3 linked regions of the Homo sapiens genome follow. Changing the gene in region 2 together with the main gene of any one other region gives a genetic interaction. Each region holds a gene or a part of one and is shown on either strand. Other genes may lie near its edges.

Region 1 (6,967 bases), on a different chromosome or scaffold from region 2:
GGAGGGGCGAGTCTGGGGGGAGGGTGAGGCGCTTTTGCAAAAGGCACGAGGGTCCACCCCAGACGGCCTGTGGCCACTCCGGAACGACTCTCCCACAAACCCCGAAGCCCCAGCCCCAGCCCGGCGGGGAACCCCCCCAGTGAGAGACAAGCAGAGAGCGGAGGTCTGGCGTCTGTCTAATCAGTGTGCTCGGAGAAAGAGACGGAGGGAGAGGGCGGAGAGAGAGAGGCCGGCTAAAGAGAGAGGAAGCCGGGAGAGGCAGGGAGCAGGCGGCCGGCACTAGCGGAGCCTGGGCAGGGCCTGTAAGGGCCGGGGAAAGCCGGCGAGGCTCGGGCCCAGGCTGTTATCTGACTCCGGACCGGGAGAGTCGCTCTCGCAGAAACACAAAGAAACCCCGGCGTTGGCTCGCCCCAACCCGGAGCCCGCGCCCCGCGCCGAGCGCGCCATTGGCAAAGCACGGCTCGCGGCGCTCGGCGAATTTTATATCACAAAGACCCAACTCGCGCAGAGCGAAAGCAGCCGCCCAGGGCCCCTCGCCCACCCTTTCCTACTTCCTATCGCGCTCTCTTCGTTTCAAAAAGTGAAAGGAAAAAAGAAAGCAGAGGTATTTTTTTTTTTAGCAGGATGTTAATCCACGGAGGGTCACATGAGCGCTGCCCGGGCGGCAGCGTTAATACGGCGAAGTGCATAAAATTGCCATTTGTAATTTGAACCTCCTGTACAAAAGTACAATCTCAGGTTTTTTTTTTTTTTTTTTTGAGAGGGTGGGGGCTGGGGAAAGGGGTGAGGGGGAGGGACATGTTGAACATGCAGGAAAAACAAGGGCAGAGAGAGAGAAGTAAACTAGGCTTTAAAACAACAACAACAAACACCCCATCCCTTGCAGAAAGGCAGACTCCAGTGAACTCACAATCAATGCAAAGGAAATGGAAACAGCCCAAAGAGAGAGTAAAGAAGGAAATCAGTCGGCCAAAGCATGCGGATTTGGGGTCTGGGTTCCAATGCAGAACTCGCTTCTAGTATAAAACCCTTTTCCGCTGCAATACGAAGAGAAGAGCTTGGGGCTTCTTGTCCTTACCCAGAGCAGGCTAGCCAAACGTACCCAGGACCCCGGGACCCAGGACGAGGGAAGGAGAAATGAGAGGCCGATACCTTCCCGTCTCATGCCCACTTTGAGGCACTTTTTGAGGCGGCAGTACTGGCACTGGTTGCGATGGTGCTGGTCGATGGGACAGTTCCGGTTGGCGCGGCACGTGTAGCTCAGGTTCCTCCGCACGCTGCGCTTGAAGAAGCTCTTGCAGCCCTCGCACGTGAACTGGCCGTAGTGCTTGCCGCTCGACTTGTCTCCGCACACCACGCACTCGATGTGTTGCTGCTGCTGCTGCTTGTCGCTACCCGGGCCGCCAGGGCCGCCCTGGCCACCGGCCGCCGTCTGGGCTGGCGTGCTGGCTGGGCCCCCTTGGCCGGGCGTCTGTGGCGTGTGCGGGGCGCCGGGCGGCGGGCCGGGCACGGGCGGCGCCTGCGAGGCCTGGCTGCCCTGTGAGCCGGGCACCTCGTCCTGGGGGTCGCGCCACGTGCTGACTACCATTGCCATATCTATGGGGGCTGCGTCCGGACTTCCTGCTCCCCTGGCTGCGGGCGGCGGCGGGGCGGCGGCGGCTCCCCGGGTCTCGGGCTCCGGCGCGCCGCCTTTTGTGTGTGCGAGGGTGCAAGAGGGCGCGGGAGGGCGCCCCGGGTGGCTCGGGGGCTGGTTGGTTGAGGTTGGTTAGTTTTTCCTTTTTTGTTTTTGCTTTTGCAAAGTTTTGTCGATGGCTTGTCTGGCCCGGTGTGTTTGTTTTGTTTGTTTCTCTCGGCTCAGCTTTGTTGGTTTCGGGGGGCTTTCCGCCGGGAGGGGAGGGGAAGGGGACAGGAGAGCGAGTGGGAGCAGAACGTGGAGAAAGAGGGAGGGGAGGGAGAGCTGAAGTCGATTGTCTGGCTTCAAGACAGAAGTAGGAGGCAAAAAAAAAAATCTCTCCAAAGATCTCGCTCGCTCTCACTCTCTCCCTCCCTCTCTCGTTCACTCTCGCTCTTAGAGCTGGTGTGCAGCCGAGGAGTTGGCGGAGGAGGAGGAGGAGGAGGAGGAGGAAGAGGAGGTGGTGGTGAAGGAGGAGGTAGAGGAGGAGGAGAGGCGACTGTCCGGGGGCCAAGTCCAGGGCAGCCCACAGTCAGCCATTCAGGAAAGCCATCGAAATCAGGAGGACTAGGAGATCGGAGGCGCCGGGTGCGGGCGCGCCCAGGGAGCCAGGCAGGCCGGGGCGGAGGCCGGCGGCCCGCGGAGTGGCCGGAGCGCTGCCCGGGTCCGGGGGAATCAGCATGAAAGTGGTCCGCGTCGGGCGCTGCGCGGCGTCGTCCTGGCGCTGGGCCGCCGCCGCCGCCGCCTGCCCCGGGCGTCCGGCGCGCGCCTCGCTCTCTCCGGCCGCCGCCGCCCGCAGTCGCTGGGTGGAGGCCGCTCGCCGTTCCCTGCGGGCCGCCCGGGCCGCCGCTGCCGCCGGAGCCGCCGCCGAAGCCGCCGGGTCGGGCCCGGAGCCGCTGCGTCTAGCGCCGCCGCCGCCGCTGAAGTCGCTGCTGCCGCTGCTGCCGCCGCCGGAGCCGCTGCTGCTGCTGCTGCCGCCGCCGCCTCACACACATAGGGAAAGAGTCAACTCGCCGGCGGCGGGGGAGAAATGATAAAAGAGAGAGAGGAGGGCAGATCACCACCTAGAAGCACATCCTTCGTGCGCAGAGGGGGGAGAAAAAGACGGAGAGAAAGAATGAAAGAGGGGAAAAAAGGCAGTACGGCACCCGGAGAAAGGAGGCAACTCGGGGAGAGGAGGAGGAGAAGAAGAAAACACACACGCGCGCACGCACACACACACCGCGGAGAGAAAAGAACAGAGAATCAAAGTGATCAAATATGCTAAAAAGGGGGGCGCGGGAGGGAATGCGATTTATAGGCGCCGGGGCTGGCAGAAGTGGCTTCTCCGCGATCAGCTCACTGAGCTCTCTATATAGTGAACTTTGACACGACTGCTGCAACTTAGCGCACGTTGCCATGGCGACGGCGCGCCTTATAAGGCAGCAGCCGGGGTTGGCCTGGCCAGGCGCGCGCGCGCCGCCCCCTCGCCGTCATTGGCCGGACTGCGGCGGCCCCGCCATGGCGGCCGCGGGCGCAGCCCGGTCCTAGCGCGAGCGGCGTCGCCGGCGCGGCGCGGGGCACGCGGGGGACCGGGGGTTGGGGGGGCGGGGACGGGGTGGCCGCGCCGCCGCCGCCGCCGCCGCCGAGAGGGGGATGGGCCCGTGCTGGCCCTGCGAGCGCTGCCTCTGCTCTCCCCACATCCCGCACCCGAGGTTTCCGCCCCGGCGGGGAGACTAGCGCAGCGCGCACACACAACGTCTCTTAAAGGCTCCGCGAGAGGCTTTGGATGGAATCGGGGAGTTTGCCTCTCGCAACTTGGCGATGTCACGAATTCCGCCGCTCGCGCACCACCCGGGACTCCTGGCGCATCTTAGTACCCACAATGCCAAAGAAAAGTTCCCTGGTTTCTTTGCAGAGGGATAGGGAGTGAGGGTGGGAAGGTGCCACGAACTGAGCTTGTAGGCATTTTCCAAACGAAAGAGTTGGCCAGATCCGGGTGATGGCAAACCCTTCTCTTAATTAACTCTGATCACTTGTTCGGTTTGGTGACATATATATATGACATATATTCTTTTCAGAGGATAAAGGCCGTTCTGTTTCTGTTTATTCCTTGTAGGGTTAACATTTCACAGGTATGTGGCCTGACATTTTAATTGCCCAAATAAAGCATCTCGGATGCTGAGAAGCAGAAATAGACTTCATCTGATTGTCATGATGCAATTAGAATCAATTTTCCTCAACTTTACCCTCTCTCGCTGGTTTTAGCTAACTCTCCAGCCAACATCCTGCCACACACCCAGTCATGGTGAGAGGGGAAAGACCTCTGCCCACTGATGGACAGGAGGAGGCAGCCGCCCAGCCTCCCCTGTGCACACCCTCTGTACACACATGTAAGCGCACATGTATCAGATGCACATTTGTCAATGTACACAGACAAAGACTTCACCGACTATGCTTCTAGGTCATAGAACAGTTGAGTACGGACTTCATTGTTCCTCAAGTTCCTTTTAAGCATTCATATAGTCATTAAAACGCACCCAGAGATTCTGCCCCAAATGGGAAATAATACTAGTACAGGTCACAAGAACCAAACCCAAGCCATATTCTACCTCAAGAAGTCACTGCAAAAAGAACAACTTCATAGCCTATTGCCATTCTGCTCCATGTGCTAAAATAATTGAGACAGTTGTGTCTTTGAATTCCAGGGTGTCTGGTTTTAAACATCAAACATGTAGAATTGCTCTCAGAACACACTATATTCCAACGCAGTAAACTTGTTGTTTATGACCAGTTAGTGAATTATCATTATTCCACATTTATACAAGAAAATTGTGTCTCCTTTGTACACACTTTGCACCAAGAAAAAACCTCATGCCGGTAAACCAACCAGGTTTGTGAACAATTAAAATATTTTACACAAAAGACGCTGAGCTCCAGGAAAGAAATGAACACATATGAAGAGTAAATTGATGACCACAGAAAACATCCTTGGTAGCTGAAAAAAAAATTGACAGGGTAAAGATATTTTAAAAATAAACCATACATATAATTGACATGCATAGATCACATTTTACATTCAATTCTCTTTACACACATAGGCAGAATATGAGGTAAGGACTAAAGATCTGGGCAGATAGGGGCTGGTTTTTAGGAAAGGAAAAATCTTCTTTAAGCTTCATTCCCGAAACCTCAGCCCTCACTCTTTCTCCGATGAAATCACGTATTTCACTAAAGCTGCAGGTTCTCGGTTTATTTGAAAGTTGTTAAAAAAAAAAAAAAAAGCCCAGCAAACCTATAGTGGACACTGAACTATCATAAACCTGGTGTGTAATAAGATTGCCACAGAATGAAGCCAAGCTGAGAATTTCAGGTTAATTAGAGACACAATATAACTTTCTCCTAAAGAGGATAAGAAGGATGGAAAAGAAATCATTACACAGGAGAAGGTTTTTGGTAGTTGTTGTTGTTTTCCCTTCCAACCTCTATGATTCAGGAATTGCTAATGTTACAAATGTCAGCAGATTCGGGACAAGCTCAGCTGAGATGTGATGAGACTGGGGTTGAGATAGGAAATCTAATGGGCATTCCCATCTCAATAGAGGATGAAAATAATTGATTATAGGGAAATCTTCATCTCACCTCCTGAATGAGACTTCCATAGCAGATTACCTTTTACAAACATGGGAAGGAACAATATCGAGGAGGAAGAGCTTCCCCAGTCCACTTAGAGATTTTTGGAATTTGAAGTATGCGTGATGGCCTTAGATTAAAATGGAATAATTTCCCAACCATATCTTAACAAATTGGAGCCTGCTAGGCAAATGATCACAGGGCTGCCATAAAGTCAGGGGTGTTTCACTCTGTATTTTAGGACTCATTCAGTTATGAAATGCTGTTACAAGGGAGAAAAAAAATCACCGTATGAATTATACTTAATTTTAATGCATAGAAGAAGAGACAAGACTACAGACTGAGAAGAAAAAAGGGCAAAAATATTTTTAAATGTCTTCTCCAGAGATGCTCACTTGCTGTGCGTCTAAGGTTAAAAAGCTCTGAGAAGATAAAATCAATATATTATTGTTGTTTTTTAAAAATCCAACTCAGTCTTTTTTTGCAGATGTAAATTTATTATAATGAGAAGAATGGCAAGCTTTAATTTGCCTAGAGAAAGTTGGGACAACATTTGCCCTAATCTAAAAAAGAAAAGAAAGAAACTCAACACCCAGGAATATAATTTTCTTGCAGAAAGTGGCCTGATGGGCTGTATTTCTTTACAGATTGAATCACAATATGAATACAGACCCCAGCAAATGCCGAGTTTAACTCTGAACTCAGTAGAAACCAGTTCCGTCCTCCAGGATTCATTGAATTCCTCCTTTCCCTCAATCTAGTCCGTGTGTGTTTTTCTCTTCCACCACACTGGAGCTCCATGAATAGGGAAAGGGGCTTCCATTGTGTCCCTCTGAACTTCCAAGTCAATGCAATTTTTAACCACTGGCTTGTGGTACTTTGAAAATCACCAGGGGCTGTCAGAGTTAGGTCCTCTGAAAAATTTACAGTGCTAAATCAGAGCATATGCTGGGAGGGAAAAAATTGCTTAAGATTAGAGCAAGTACAGTATCTGTCTGCCCCCTAGTGTAAGAGTCCTCGCTGCCTAAAATTCAACTTTAAAAGAAAAGGAGCTCTTAAAGGGAAACGACTTTGGACTCACGTAGGCATAGGAGAACGAAACTTCTGTACATTTTAATCTGAATAATTCTTCAGGATTTAAAATTAATTGGCTCTGGCTTGGTTGGACCGTACTCGGATCTCGCCACCTCTGCGTTTCCCGAGTCACTGGCGAAGAGGTGATTTTTTTTTTTTTTTGAACTGGGTTTATGTGCGTCCCCCTCACCCCCTCCTCTCTTTTTCTTTCTCTCTGTCTCTGTCGTCTCTCTCGCTGGCTTTTTAAAAATGAGGAACCGCTCCTTGAATGTTCTGGACAGAGCACAGAATTGCTTCTTAAGTCAGCCCGGCGCGGTTGCAATAGACAGCAAAAAGGTAAACGTTTGCCTGAAATCCGCACGCCAGCTCCACCGCCCCGCCCGATGGTGAGTACCCTTCTCGTCGCGATTCTCCTCCTAGCTTAACCGAGCGCTCGCCTACCCGAACCGTGGCCGAGGGCGCCGGGCTAGGCTTTTCTCCCTCCCTGCCTGCCTGGCTGTCAGTTGCACAAGGTTGCAAAATGAAGCGCAGAGGCAAAGCGAACAGTAAATTCTGATACTTAGTGCGAGCCTAGCAGCTCCTTTGCTAGAAAACCGAGTCATCTGCTGC
Region 2 (7,079 bases):
GTAGGACAGGGGGTATTATTATTCTCACCTTACAGATAAGAAAACTAAAACTTATCACATGCTTAATCTATAACACTAGCCTTCTAATTGGTCCCTCTACCTTCAATTCACACTACCTGCCACACTGTCACCAGAGTTATTTTCCTAATCCACAATTCTGATAACATCACTCCTTCGCTCAAAAAATCCTTATGGCTCCCCATCCCCTACAGGATAAAGAGTAAAGAATAACTTTAATAGAGATAGGCATGGTGGCATGAGCCTGTAATCCCAGTTACTCTGGAGGCTGAGGCAGGAAAATCACTTGAGCCCAGGAGTTCAAGACCAGGCTGGGTCTCAACATTTAATAATAATAACTTCAGAAGACTGGCATTCAAGGACTTTCTTTTTTTTGAGACAAGTCTCGATCTGTTGCCCAAGCTGGAGTGCAGTGGTGCAATCTCAGCTCACTGCAACCTTCGCCTCCTGGGTTCAAACAATTCTCCTGCCTCAGCCTCTCAAGTAGCTGGCATCACAGGCATGTGCTACCATGCCTGGCTAATTTTTGTATTTTTAGTAGAGAAGGGGTTTCACCTTGTTGGTCAGGCTGGTCTCAAACTCCTAACCTCAGTTGATCCACTCACCTCGGCCTCCCAAAGTGCCGGGATTACAGGTGTGAGCCACCGCGCCTGGCCAGCATTCAAGGACTTTCTTTTACTTTATTTATTTATTTTTTTGAGACAGAGTCTCGCTGTGTTGCCCAGGCTGGAGTGCAGTGGCGCGATCTCAGCTCACTGCAAGCTCCGCCTCCAGGGTTCACGCCATTCTCCTGCCTCAGCCTCCCGAGTAGCTGGGACTACAGGCGCCTGCCACCATGCCCAGCTAATTTTTTGTATTTTTAGTACAGACGGGGTTTCATTGTGTTAGCCAGGATGGTCTTGATCTCCTGACCTTGTGATCTGCCCGCCTCGGCCTCCCAAAGTGCTGGGATTACAGGCATGAGCCACCGCGCCCGGCCAAGGACTTTCTTAATCTGCCTTTCCAGCTTCATCCAAGGACTTTCTTAACCTGCCTTTCCAGCTTCATCTCCTGCTACCACCCTTTCCCACAACACACACACACTCACTCTCTCTCTCTCTTTGCTCTAGACTGGAGTAGGCAAACTATGGCCCTTGGGACAAATACAACTAGTTGCCTGTTTTGGTAAATAAAATTTTATTGGAACACAGCCATGCCCATCCGTTTACAGTTCCTCTATGGCTGTTTTCACACTACAGTGGCAGAGCTGAGCAGTTTAGTTGCCACAGACACCCAAGCATATGGCAAAATAAAGCCTAAAATATTTACTATCTGGCCCTATATAGAAAAAGTTTGCCAACCTGTGCTCCAGACACACCAGATTATGATCAGTATCCTGAACATGACATTCACCTTCACACCACAGTATCCTCTGTGCAGACTATTCCTTTGACCTGAAATGTCCTCCTTTCTTTGATGATGCTCATACTACAAAGCCCACCTCAAGCTCCAAACCCTTTCTTGATCAAAATAAATGGTCTTTTCCTCTACATGCAATTTGTATACAGCACTTCATTAGTTTTCTTTTCTTTTTTTTTTTATTTCTTGAGACGGAGTCTCACTCTGTCGCCTAGGCTGGAGTGCAATGGTACTATCTCGGCGGCTCAGTGCAACCTCTGCCTCCCAGGTTCAAGCAGTTCTCCTGCCTCAGCCTCCTAAATTGCTGGGATTACAGGTGCGTGCCACCAAATCCAGCTAATTTTCATATTTAGTAGAGGTGGGGTTTCACTATGTTGGCCTGGCTGGTCTGGAACTCCTCACCTCAAGTGATATGCCCACCTCAGCCTCCCAAAGTGCTAGGATTGTTTTATATCTGAATTATTTACATGACTATATCCACAAGACTGGGTACCCCTTGAAGGCAAGGATTAATATGCCTTGTATATCACAGAGGCTCAATAAAGATTCAATGAATTGAATTGAGACTCAGAGAAGTTAAGTGCCTGCTCAAGATCACACAGCTAATGACTGATCTGGAGTCCACTCTTCGGACTCCAAATCCAATATGCTAAAAGCTACATTGGATTTTCCTTTTTTCTTTTTTTTTGAGACAGAGTCTCGCTCTGTCGCCCAGGCTGGAGTGCAGTGGTGCGATCTCGGCTCACTGCAAGCTCCGCCTCCAGGGTTCACGCCATTCTCCTGCCTCAGCCTCCCAAGCAGCTGGGACTACAGATGCCTGCCATCAAGCCCGGCTAATTTTTTTTGTACTTTTAGTAAAGACGGGGTTTCACCGTGTTAACCAGGATGGTCTTGATCTCCTGACCTCGTGATCCGTCCACCTCGGCCTCCCAAAGTGCTGGGATTACAGGTGTGAGCCACCGTGCCAGGCCCTACATTGGGCTTCTCAGGTACCTACTTCAGTTTGCACTTAATCTAGAGGGCTCTATAAGTCTACCTGATAGAAAATTCCTTGAACAATGTTGCAAAATCAAGTGAACTACACACCCAAAGATCTCTCCTTAGAGATTTATTAGGATGAGGCAGAGCTCTAGGCACCCAGTGAAAAAAAGGCATGAGCCTTGATCCCTAGCAACTCCCTTGCCTATCAAGCCTAGATCCAGCCAAGGCTCAGACCTGGGGGACTAAGATATCTTATCCAGAAGGTTAAGGGAGTATCTGAGGTGAGGGTAGTGAGGGTGGGGCTCTGAGACAGCATCCTTTTCTTTTTATGTTTTTTTTTGTTTGATGTTTTTGTTTGTTTGTTTGTAGAGATGGCATCTTGCTTTGTTGCCCAGGCTGGTTTCAAACTCCTGATCAGCCTTCTAAAGTGCTGGGATTACAGATGTGAGCCTCCAACAGTGCAGGCCAACCATCCTTTTCTTAACAGTTTTTAATTAGTTTGCCAACCCGTGCTGTGTGTATTCCTATACACATTGACAAATGCTATGACAGGGGAGCACACAGCATGAGGGACACTGTCCACTTCCTTAGAATTCCACCCTGGATCCTCTTCTATATAACTTCTTGGGTGACTGCATCCTTTATGATTAAATTTACTGTAATTAAAATAAAGATATATCTCTATATCTTAATCAGGTTGCTGAGAGACTTTAAAAGAAATGGTCCTTTTTATTTAGGTACTACTTAATTTTAATTTTTATTTTTGGAGACAGAGTCTCACTCTGTCACCCAGGCTGGAGTGCAGTGGTGCGATCTCAGGCTCACTGCAACCTCTGCCTCCCAGGTTCAAACAATTCTCCTGCCTCAGCCTCCTGAGTAGCTGGGATTACAGACATGTGCCACCACGCCTGGCTAAGTTTTGTATTTTTAGTAGAGTCAGGGTTTCACCATGTTGCCCAGGCTTGTCTTGAACTCCTGACCTCAAGTGATCCGCCCACCTCGGCCTCTCAAAGTGCTGGGATTACAGACGTGAGCCATGGCGCCAGCCATACTTTAAACTCTTAAAGAGCTTTCCCATCATTGTTCTCATAATAGGAACTCCTATCATTTTGATTTTATAGGAGAGAAATCTGAAATGTAAGGTGACTTGCCTGATATTACAAAGCTTCTCAATGGCAGAGCCAAATCTGAATCCCAAAGTAATGACCTCACTGCAAAACTCAGTTTCTCAAGTAAGAAGTCTATTCCCGGCTGGGCCTAGTGGCTCACGCCTGTAATCCCAGCACTTTGGGCCGAGGCGGGTGGATCATGAGGTAAGGAGATCAAGAACATCCTGGCTAACACGGTGAAACCCGTCTCTACTAAAAATACAAAAAATGGCCGGGCGCGGTGCCTGACGCCTGTAATCCCAACACTTTGGGAGGCCGAGGCAGGCGATCATCTGAGGTCGAGAGTTCAAGACCAGCCTGACCAACATGGAGAAACCCCGTCTCTACTAAAAATACAAAATTAGCCGGGCGTGGTGGCATATGCCTGTAATCCCAGCTACTCAGGAAGGCTGAGGCAGGAGAATCGCTTAAACCTGGGAGGCGGAGGTTGCAGTGAGTTGAGATTGCGCCACTGCGCTCCAGCCTGGGCAACAAGAGCAAAACTTGGTCTCAAAAAAAAAAAAAAAAGGCCGGGCGCGCTGGCTCACGCCTGTAATCCCACCACTTTGGGAGGCCGAGGCGGGCGAATCACAAGGTCAGGAGATGGAGACCATCCTGGCTAACACGGTGAAACCCCGTCTCTACTAAAAATACAAAAAATTGGCCAGGTGTGGTGGTAGGCGCCTGTAGTACCAGTTACTCGGGAGGCTGAGGCAGGAGAATGGCGTGAACCTGGGAGGTGGAGGTTGCAGTGAGCCGAGATCGCGCCACTGCGCTCCAGCCTGGGTGAAAGAGCAAGACTCCATCTCAAAAAAAAAAAAAAAAAAAAAAAAAAAAAATTAGCCAGGCGTAGTGTCATGCGCCTCCAGTCCCAGCTCCTCGGGAGGCTGAGGCAGGAGAATGGCATGAACCCTGGAGGCAGAGCTTGCAGTGAGCCGAGATGGCGCCACTGCACTCCAGCCTGGGCGACAGAGCAAGACTCCGTCCCCCCCGCAAAAAAAGAAGTCTATTCCCTTATCTAAAGACTGAGGTCTTTGTACTTTTTCTTTTTCTTTTTTTGAGGCAGGGTCTTGCTTTGTCACTCAAGCTGAGTGCAGTGGTGCCATTATGGGTCACTGCAGGCTCCACCTGGGCTCAAACCATCCACCTGCCTCAGTCTCCCACCTCAACCTCCCAAGTAGCTGCGATTACAGGCAAGTGCCACCACACCCAGCTTATTTTTTTGTGTTGTTTTGTAGAGCTGGGGGAGGTCTCATTTTGTTGCCCAGGCTGGTCTTGAACGCCTGGTCTCAAGTGATCCTTCCGCCTTGGCCTCCCAAACTACTGGGATTACAGGCGTGAACCACCATGCCCAGCCCATTTTTTTCTTCTTTTAAACTGACAATGTTATCATAAAATGTTATCATAAAACTGTGCAAAATGATATGACTACAAAAATCACAGGTTCCAGCCTCAAAATGATTCTTATCACTGCCAGCAATCCTTCCAAATTTCTTTCCCTAGCCCCCCACTTTTGCAAAAGCTATTTAAATCTCCTCTCTTCAAGATTCCTGCTCCACCAACTGCCCTACCCCACCCTCAGGAAAAGGAATATTCTCTTTCCTGATCTTGAGAACTCCCTCAACTTTCTCCTTATCTTCTCCTCTTCAAACTTACCTCCATTTGAACTTTTCCTTGACATTTACCCTCGCATCACAAAGGAATTTGTTGAAGGTTAGTGTCTCTAGCTGGGCTCCGGTTTCCATCTCCCCTGGTCTCCTCAGGAAGCTCCATCACTACTAGTCCCTTTCCTGTATCTTCAGCCTCTCCCTCTCTTCTGGCTATTTTCCATAAGAATTATTTCAATATGCTCAACTTTTAGCCACTACATCTCCATCTCCCTTATCAACAATCCTCTCTCCCTACCTCACACAAGCTTCCCTTTAAAAGGGTTCAACCAGCTGGGCATGATGGCTCACGCCTGTAAACCCAGCACTTTGGGAGGCTGAGGCGGGTAGATGACTTGAGCTCAGGAGTTTGAGACCAGCCTGGGCAACATGGCGAAATCCTGTCTCTAAACAAAAGACAACCGTTTGTCTTCTAAACAAAAAATACAAAAAGGGTGCACACCTGTGGTTCCAGCTACTTGGAAGGCTGAGGTGGGAGGACTGCTTGAGCCTGGGAGGCAGAGGTGGTAGTGAGCCAGGATCATGCCACTGCACTCCAGCCTGAGTGACAGAGTGAGGCCCTGTCTCCAAAAAAAGGGTTCAACCTGATGTCTCCTCTTCAGTTAGCCATCCATGTACTGCAATCTACCACAATCTAGCTTCTGCCCCAGTTGCCGCCAACACTTGCCCAATCCCTCCCTTCTTTAGCTTCTGCAACCCAGTACTTTCTGGTTCACCTACCTCTCCGGCCCCTCACTCTCTATCATTATACATTTAATCAACAAATATTTATTGAGAACCTACCATGAGCTAGGCATTGTTTTTGGTGCTGGGGATACAGAGGTAGACAAGGCACGGCCCCTTTCCCTAAAGAGCCTCCTCTCTACAAGAAATATGACCAAGTAAATGGGCAATTCCTCTACACAGTGACAAATACTATCACGGGGGAGTACACAGCATGAGGGGCACTAAACTTTTCCTCAATCCACTTCCTTAGAATTCCACCCTGGAATTCTATATAACTTATTGGGTGACTGCATCCTTTATGACTAAATTTACTACAATTAAAATTGCTAGCAGCCAGGAATGGTGGGTCATGCCTATAATCCCAACACTTTGGGAGGCTGAGCCCAGGACTTCAAGGCCAGCCTGGACAACATGGCAAGACAACATCTCTACAACAAACAAACAAACAAACAAACAAATAAAATAACTATCCATATGCTGATTGTTATGGTCTGAATGTGTCCCCCAAAATTCATGTGTTGGAAACATATTCCCCAATGCCAACAGTGTTTGGAAGTGGAGCCTTTTGGGAGGTGTTTAGGTCTCAAGGGCTCTACCATCCTCACTAATACATTAATGGCCATATAAAAAAACAGAGTTTATCCTTTTTTGCCTTTCCACCTTCTGTCATATGAAAACACTGAATTCAAAGCACCATATTGGAAGTAGAGACCAGACCCTCACCAGACACCAAATGCTGGCACCCTGATCTTGGACTTTCTAGCCTTGGACTTCTCAGCCTCCAGAACTATGAGAAATACATTTATGTTCTTTTTTTTTTTTTGACACAAGGTCTCACTCTGTCCCCCAGGCTGGAGTGCACTGGTGCGATCATGGCTCACTGCAGAGTCGACCTCCCAGGATCAAGTGATCCTCCCACTTCAGCCTCTCTACAGGCACATGCCATCATGCCCAGCTAATTTTTTTACTTTTTGTAGAGACAGAGTCTCCCTAAGTTGCCCAGGCTGGTCTCAAACTCCTGGGCTCAAGAGAACCATCCGCCCCAGCCTACCAAAGTACTGGGATTATAGGCGTGAGCCACCACATTCAGCAATTTCTGTTCTTTATAAACAGTGTTCTGTTATAGCAGACTAAGATACTG
Region 3 (7,079 bases), on a different chromosome or scaffold from region 2:
CATATTAGCATCCATGAGAAAAGGTGACATTTCTAAGTGTCACGGGCCACAGGAGGTCCCGGGTGGTAGAAGATGAGGATTGCTTGACCACAGTCTCCCATATGCTCGTGCTCCACTGGGCGACATTTATTTTGTGTACCTGTCTCGAGGCCTAAGTAGGTGTCAGAACCTTGCCTTGGAGTCATGCTGGGGACTGGGGAGATGCGCGTCATCTTCGGGTGGCTGTTCTCGGTGCCCTCGAGCTTCTCTCGGGCAGCGCATAGCTGCGCTGCCACCTCACGTTCCACATGCTGACCCTGCCTTGCCATGGTCCCTCTCGCAGCCCATGGAGTCCATGCATGAGAAGGGCATGTCGGACGACCCGCGCTACAACCAGATGAAAGGAATGGGGATGCGGTCAGGGGGCCATGCTGGGATGGGGCCCCCGCCCAGCCCCATGGACCAGCACTCCCAAGGTACAGAACTGCGTTCCTTCCTGCCTTGTGTTTGTCATACTCCAGAGTCCTCAGATCATTTTCCTCCCCTGGGTTCCCACAGGATGGATTCAGGGAGTACCTAGGATGATGTAGCCGGGTGGGTGGCCCGCCACAGAGAGCTGTCTGGCATGGCGTGGCTGGTGCTCTGTTCTGGCCACCTCGTCTCGGAGCAGCCCTGGAAGGGGAAATGCTGGTTGGGGGGCAGACCATGTTCAGCATGGGTGATAGAGGAGGGCTGTGCAGGGCAGCAGCCCCGTGCCACCCAGGAACTTACTGGAAATACAGATTCCTGGGGCCTGGGACTCTGCTTTAATGAGCCCAGCAGGTGCCTTTTCTGTACGAGGACAATTGAGAAGTGATATGGTGGGTGACTTTCCAAGGCCTTGCTGTCATCAGGGGTGGGAAGCTCAGGGGCTGCACTGGGAATGGAAGTGTTGGGGGTGGGCCTGGCGAGCCCGAGGATGTGGACCCCGCCTGTGGACAGGCAGGCGGAAGCCGGGAGAGAGCCGTGATTTCATGCACAGGTTCTCAGCATTAACCAGAAGCACCTTACTGAGACGTGGGCCAAACCAAATCCACCAGGTCGGCTGCTGGGCTGAGGTGCCTTCAGCATGTGCCCTCCAGGTGCCCCTGGTTGACTCAAGAGAAGGATGCCATTTGGCTGTGCCCTGTCTCAGAGTAGGAGCTGGTGTAGGGGGAAGAGGCTGTAAAAATCACAGACATATGCTGCCGAGTGACCAGTGGGCTGACCTTTCTCTGCAGGTTACCCCTCGCCCCTGGGTGGCTCTGAGCATGCCTCTAGTCCAGTTCCAGCCAGTGGCCCGTCTTCGGGGCCCCAGATGTCTTCCGGGCCAGGAGGTGCCCCGCTGGATGGTGCTGACCCCCAGGCCTTGGGGCAGCAGAACCGGGGCCCAACCCCATTTAACCAGAACCAGCTGCACCAGCTCAGAGCTCAGATCATGGCCTACAAGATGCTGGCCAGGGGGCAGCCCCTCCCCGACCACCTGCAGATGGCGGTGCAGGGCAAGCGGCCGATGCCCGGGATGCAGCAGCAGATGCCAACGCTACCTCCACCCTCGGTGTCCGCAACAGGACCCGGCCCTGGCCCTGGCCCTGGCCCCGGCCCGGGTCCCGGCCCGGCACCTCCAAATTACAGCAGGCCTCATGGTAAGACTGGCTGCCCTGGCCCTCAGGTGTCTCAGAGCGAATGGCTGGGGCGTGGGTGGCGGGGTGGACAGACCGTGCTCTGTTGCCGACTGGGTTCCCCGGTTTGGGATTGCACGGGCCCATACTGCACTTCTGGGTGCTCGGGTGGTGGGGGCAGCTAAATGCTGCTTCCCCAGCTCCCCGCTTCCCCTGGGGCCGCTGGTTAATAGGTGTATCTGCTGTGTCCCCTGGAGCCAGGGCTGCCCACGGGGCTGGGCGCAGGCATAAACCTGGGACGCACTGTTTTCTCTTTTGTTTCTCCCTACATGTAGGTATGGGAGGGCCCAACATGCCTCCCCCAGGACCCTCGGGCGTGCCCCCCGGGATGCCAGGCCAGCCTCCTGGAGGGCCTCCCAAGCCCTGGCCTGAAGGTGAGCTCCCTCTTCTATGGTGGTGCACCCGTGCCCTTACTCCCCATCTCAAGCTTGGGTCCTTGAGATGAGCTTTGTCAGGGAGAAAGGGCCGAGGGTGGTCAGGCTGAACTGCAGCCTGTACTTTTCTTGTGGTGGTCCCCGGGTCTCCCCTGTAGCCAGTCAGTTCCCAAAGGCTGTCGTTCATCCCTCCTCTGACAGCTTGTGGCCTTCACCCAGTCCCTGAGCCCTGTATATGTAATTGCTCAGTAAGTGCTGCAGGCTCCCATCTGTTGGGCTCAAAGAGGCAGTGGGACTCATTACCCATCCTCTTGGAGCCTGAGGTTTAGCGATGGGCATTGAGGGGCAAATTGCTTCCACTGGATTTAGTTGGCACTAGGAGGAGATGACAGGAAATGCTGCCATAGAGCCACAGACAGAACAAAAAGGCCTTGGGAGCCTGGGGCTGGCCCCAGTGGAGGGTGTGAAGGACGAGGGTGAGGCTGAGATCTGGAGGAGGTTGGAGCCCAAGGCAGGTGTGAAGGACACCCCTGGGTGAAAGGTGGGAGATGGGCGGGGTCTGCCTGTCCCCAGTGCCTCAAGCAGCTCAGCAGCTTTCCATTTCCAGCCCGGGATGGGCCCCAGAGCTCAACATGACGCCCTGGCCCCTTGCCTTCTCCCAGGACCCATGGCGAATGCTGCTGCCCCCACGAGCACCCCTCAGAAGCTGATTCCCCCGCAGCCAACGGGCCGCCCTTCCCCCGCGCCCCCTGCCGTCCCACCCGCCGCCTCGCCCGTGATGCCACCGCAGACCCAGTCCCCCGGGCAGCCGGCCCAGCCCGCGCCCATGGTGCCACTGCACCAGAAGCAGAGCCGCATCACCCCCATCCAGAAGCCGCGGGGCCTCGACCCTGTGGAGATCCTGCAGGAGCGCGAGTACAGGTGAGGGCGGGGCCCAGTTGCCAAGGTCACTGCCCTGTGTCCCCCATGTCCCCCTGGGGAAGCCACTCAACTTTCTCCCCCACTCTAGCAAACAGTGCCCTGTGCCCACCACTGCCACTTGGCCTACACCTCCTTCCTCACCTCCCTGCTCCCACCCTGGCTGCGGTCTGTTTCCCACACAGCAGTTTGAGTTCTCTCTCTTTTTTTTTTTTTGAGACGGAGTTTCACTCTTGTTGCCCACGCTGGAGTGCAATGGCACAATCTCGGTTCACTGCAACCTGCATCTCCTGGCTTCAAGCGATTCTTCTGCCTCAGCCTCCTGAGTAGCTGGGATTATAGGCATGCGCCACCACACCTGGCTAATTTTGTATTTATTTTAGTAGAGGCAGGGTTTCTCCATGTTGGTCAGGCTGGTCTCGAGCTCCTGACCTCAGATGCTCCCAAAGTGCTGGGATTACAGGCATGAGCCACCGCACCTGGCATGAATTCTCTTTTTATGATTGATATCAGATCTACTCCGTGGATTAAAACCTGCCTGTAGCTTCAATTATCTGCCCAATAAGCTTTGCCTTATGTCCACTCCTGCCCAGCATCCTTCCTCACCCATCCCAGTCTCTCTGTTCCTCTTTTCATTTATTTAACAAGTTAGACTTGTTCCTGCCCCAGGACCTTTGCACAGGCTGTGCATGGCTCCTTCTACTCATTCAGGCCTGATTGCTGGGGTTCCCTCCTCATGGAGGCCCTTCCTGTCACTTCCAGCCACTCTCTGGAATTGCAGTGGATATTTTATTTTTTTTAAATCTCCTTTATGGCCTGTGTTTTCTAATGAGACTGAGAGTTCCTTGCTTTGTTGTTCTTGTTTAGTGCTAAGGCCCTGCACTTAAAATGGTCCCTGGCATACAGTTGGTGCTCAATGAGTATGTGCAGAAAGACTGATTAAGAGAATTAGCCCACATAACCTTCGCATGTAACCTTCGTAACCTTCAGACCAAGCCTCTAGGGTCACTCCGAGGGGTTGCCTCAGTTTTGAGGTGAGAATGCTGAGGTGTGCAGTTGAAATAGATTCCCACCGCCCTGCGCCTCATCCATGCCAGAGCTGCATGAAAACCTTGGCCCGCCTGACGCCAGAACCTGGCTCACACCACTGAAAAGGCATGACCTGGGCGCGTCTATCAGGAATCTTGTTTGCTGTCCCCTGAGGCCCGGTCCTGAGGAGTGCCCCGGGCTATCTCCCTCTCTGCTGTGCCCTGCGGCCAGCATCCTCTTCTGAGGCATCTCTTGCCTCATGACTAGTGCCTGCCTCTCTCGAGGGATGGGTCCCCTGCAGCTCCAGCTGTAACTGGGTGCCCTGGCAACCCTCTCACCGCCTTTGCTCCTTGTCTCTGCTCCCAGGCTGCAGGCTCGCATCGCACACCGAATTCAGGAACTTGAAAACCTTCCCGGGTCCCTGGCCGGGGATTTGCGAACCAAAGCGACCATTGAGCTCAAGGCCCTCAGGCTGCTGAACTTCCAGAGGCAGGTGGGTGCTGGCATGGCCGCAGCTTTCCGAAAAGGGCCTTTGTCACCAACACTGCTGCTAAGGCTCCAAATACGGCTTGCCTGGCTAGTATTACACCTGCCTGGGCTGTGAAAAGCAGCCGTGGCCATCCATGGGCACTCAATCACTGCAGAGCCTTCCTCTTACGGCCTGCGCAGTGCTGGGGACGTGGACCTCACTACCCTAAAGCACTTGCCGCCTCAAAGCAGACTTGTATGGGCTTCTTTCTTCCTTTCCCTTTCCCTTTTTTTTTTTTTTTGGAAACAGTCTTGCTCTATCACCTAGGCTGGAGTGCAGTGGCATAAACTCTGCTCACTGCAACCAACGCCTCCTGGGATCAAGCAATTCTTCTGCTTCAGCCTCCCAAGTAGCTGGGATTACAAGCGTGTGCCACCATGCCTAATTTTTATATTTTTAGTAGAGACAGGGTTTCACCATATTGGCCAGGCTGGTCTCAAACTCTTGACCTCAAATGATCGGCCTGCCTTGGCCTCCCAAAGTGCTGGGATTACAGGCATGAGCCACCACGTGCTGTCCTGCATGGGTCTATTTCTGAGGGTACTGTGCTTAGACCCTGGAGTGCAGTGGAGAGATCACAGCTCACTGCAAACTTGACCTCCCAGGCTCATGTCCTCCTCCCGCTTCAGCCTCCTGAGTAGCTGGGACTATAGGCGTGCACCATTACACCTGGCTATATTTTTCTTTTTTTTGAAACAGAGTCTCACTCTGTCACCCAGGCTGGAGTGCAGTGGTGCCATCTCACCCCACTGTGGCCTCTGCCTCTGTGGTTCAAGTGATTTTCCTGTCTCAGCCACTGAGTAGCTGGGATTACAGGTGTGCACCACCATGCCGGGCTGATTTTTTTGAAGTGCAGTGGCACAATCTTGGCTCACTGCAACCTCTGCCTTCCAGGTTCAAGTGATTCTCCCACCTCAGCCTCCTGAGTAGCTGGGATTACAGGCATGTGCCCCACGCCTGGCTAATTTTTGTATTTTTAGTAGAGACAGTGTTTCACCATGTTGGCCAGGCTGGTCTTAAACTCCTGACCTCAGGTGATCCTCCTGCCTCAGCCTCCCAAAGTGCTGGGATTACAGGCATGAGCCACCACGCAGGCCTGGTTTTTGTATTTTTAATAGACACAGGGTTTCGCCATGTCGCCCAGGCTAGTCTCGAACTCCTGAGCTCAAGCCATCCACCTGTCTCAGCCTCCCAAAGTGCTGGGATTACAGGCATGAGCCACTGCTCCTGGCCGCCTAGTTAATTTTTCTTCTAGTTTTTGTAGAAGTGAGGTCTCTCCATGTTGCCCAGGTTGGTCTCAAACTCCTGGGCTTGAGCAATCCTCCCACCTTGGCCTCCCAAAGTGTTGGGATTACTGGCGTTAAGCCACCACACCCAGCCAAGAGTGTTATACTTCTGAATGACTCCTAAGACGTGTGTGTGGTAGAGGGGAGGCAAGCTGGAGGTCCGAGAGGACCCCCTGGATAGATGTCCAGAAGTGATCACCTTCTGTCCTGTGCTCGCCCTGCCCGGGGGCACCTGCTAGACGTCCCCTGCACACACGGACTGGGTGTGTAAGGCACTTACAATGCTCCTTTAGCGGTGAAGCATGTGACATCACCATACGTGTTTGTCATTGTGGATGCCACAGAGCTGTGCAGTGCGCGGGCTTGTCCTCTTCCCTCCTACAGCTGCGCCAGGAGGTGGTGGTGTGCATGCGGAGGGACACAGCGCTGGAGACAGCCCTCAATGCTAAGGCCTACAAGCGCAGCAAGCGCCAGTCCCTGCGCGAGGCCCGCATCACTGAGAAGCTGGAGAAGCAGCAGAAGATCGAGCAGGAGCGCAAGCGCCGGCAGAAGCACCAGGTACGCTCCGGTGGCCCCAAGGCCCTGCAGCCCGCCCACCTGGCTGCCTGGCTTGTCCAGCGGTTGCCACGGGGCTGTGTTTGCTTTGTTCCTAAACATGCTGCTTGTCTCTCTCTTTTGCTCATTGTAACAGTATTCTAGGTACTGAGAGTGTATTGGTGTAAAAACCCAATGGTAGGGAGAAGATAGTGATGAAATCCACGCGTAGCACGTCTGGAAGGTGATAGGGCACAAAGAAAAATCAAGCCAGGATAGAGAGGAAGGAACGGGCTGTTGTAGAACTGATGTTGGGGGAGTTCTTTCTTTTGGAGGTGACATCTGGGCAGACCCCCAAGGAAGGGAGGCACACAGATCTGTGGGAAAGAGCTTTCTGGGAAAAGGAGAAGGTGCAAGGGCCCTGGGGCTGGAATGTGCCTGTGTTTTCTCTGGAAAGCAAGGACCTGCATGAGCCAGAGTAGAGTGAGTGGCGGGGAGAGCTGGAGGAAGGGAGCGCAGGGAGGTGACGAGCAGGTGATGCAGGGCCTTGCGAGCTGCATGGAGGATTTGGGCTTTTGCTCTGAGTAAAGTGGGAGCCATAGAGGGTTCTGGGCAGTGCAGGGACTGATCTGACTCAGGGTTTCCCAAGATGAATCAGTAAGACGGAAATCTTCAAATCTAAAATCAAGTAAGGATTTGGGGATGATTGTGCTGATTTGGTCATTTATAG

What was found. A genetic interaction does not mean that the proteins touch.
Region 1: of HDAC1 (region 2) and NR2F2, changing one enhances a phenotype caused by changing the other (phenotypic enhancement), as found in Homo sapiens cells (one study listed by BioGRID).
Region 3: of HDAC1 (region 2) and SMARCA4, changing one suppresses a phenotype caused by changing the other (phenotypic suppression), as found in Homo sapiens cells (one study listed by BioGRID).

Annotation. Positions count from the first base shown.
Region 1 is NC_000015.10:96,326,733-96,333,699, reverse strand, and holds the start of NR2F2 (COUP transcription factor 2), read right to left. Parts: upstream 3,001-6,967; 5' UTR 1,595-3,000; coding exon 1,153-1,594; intron 1,136-1,152; exon of another isoform or gene 1,079-1,135; intron 440-1,078; exon of another isoform or gene 393-439; intron 1-392. UniProt on the Homo sapiens protein: Ligand-activated transcription factor. Activated by high concentrations of 9-cis-retinoic acid and all-trans-retinoic acid, but not by dexamethasone, cortisol or progesterone (in vitro). Regulation of the apolipoprotein A-I gene transcription.
Region 2 is NC_000001.11:32,295,083-32,302,161, reverse strand, and holds part of HDAC1 (histone deacetylase 1), read right to left. Parts: intron 1-7,079. UniProt on the Homo sapiens protein: Histone deacetylase that catalyzes the deacetylation of lysine residues on the N-terminal part of the core histones (H2A, H2B, H3 and H4).
Region 3 is NC_000019.10:10,984,951-10,992,029, forward strand, and holds part of SMARCA4 (SWI/SNF-related matrix-associated actin-dependent regulator of chromatin subfamily A member 4), read left to right. Parts: intron 1-322; coding exon 323-455; intron 456-1,238; coding exon 1,239-1,643; intron 1,644-1,954; coding exon 1,955-2,053; intron 2,054-2,715; coding exon 2,716-2,974; intron 2,975-4,366; coding exon 4,367-4,493; intron 4,494-6,199; coding exon 6,200-6,373; intron 6,374-7,079. UniProt on the Homo sapiens protein: ATPase involved in transcriptional activation and repression of select genes by chromatin remodeling (alteration of DNA-nucleosome topology).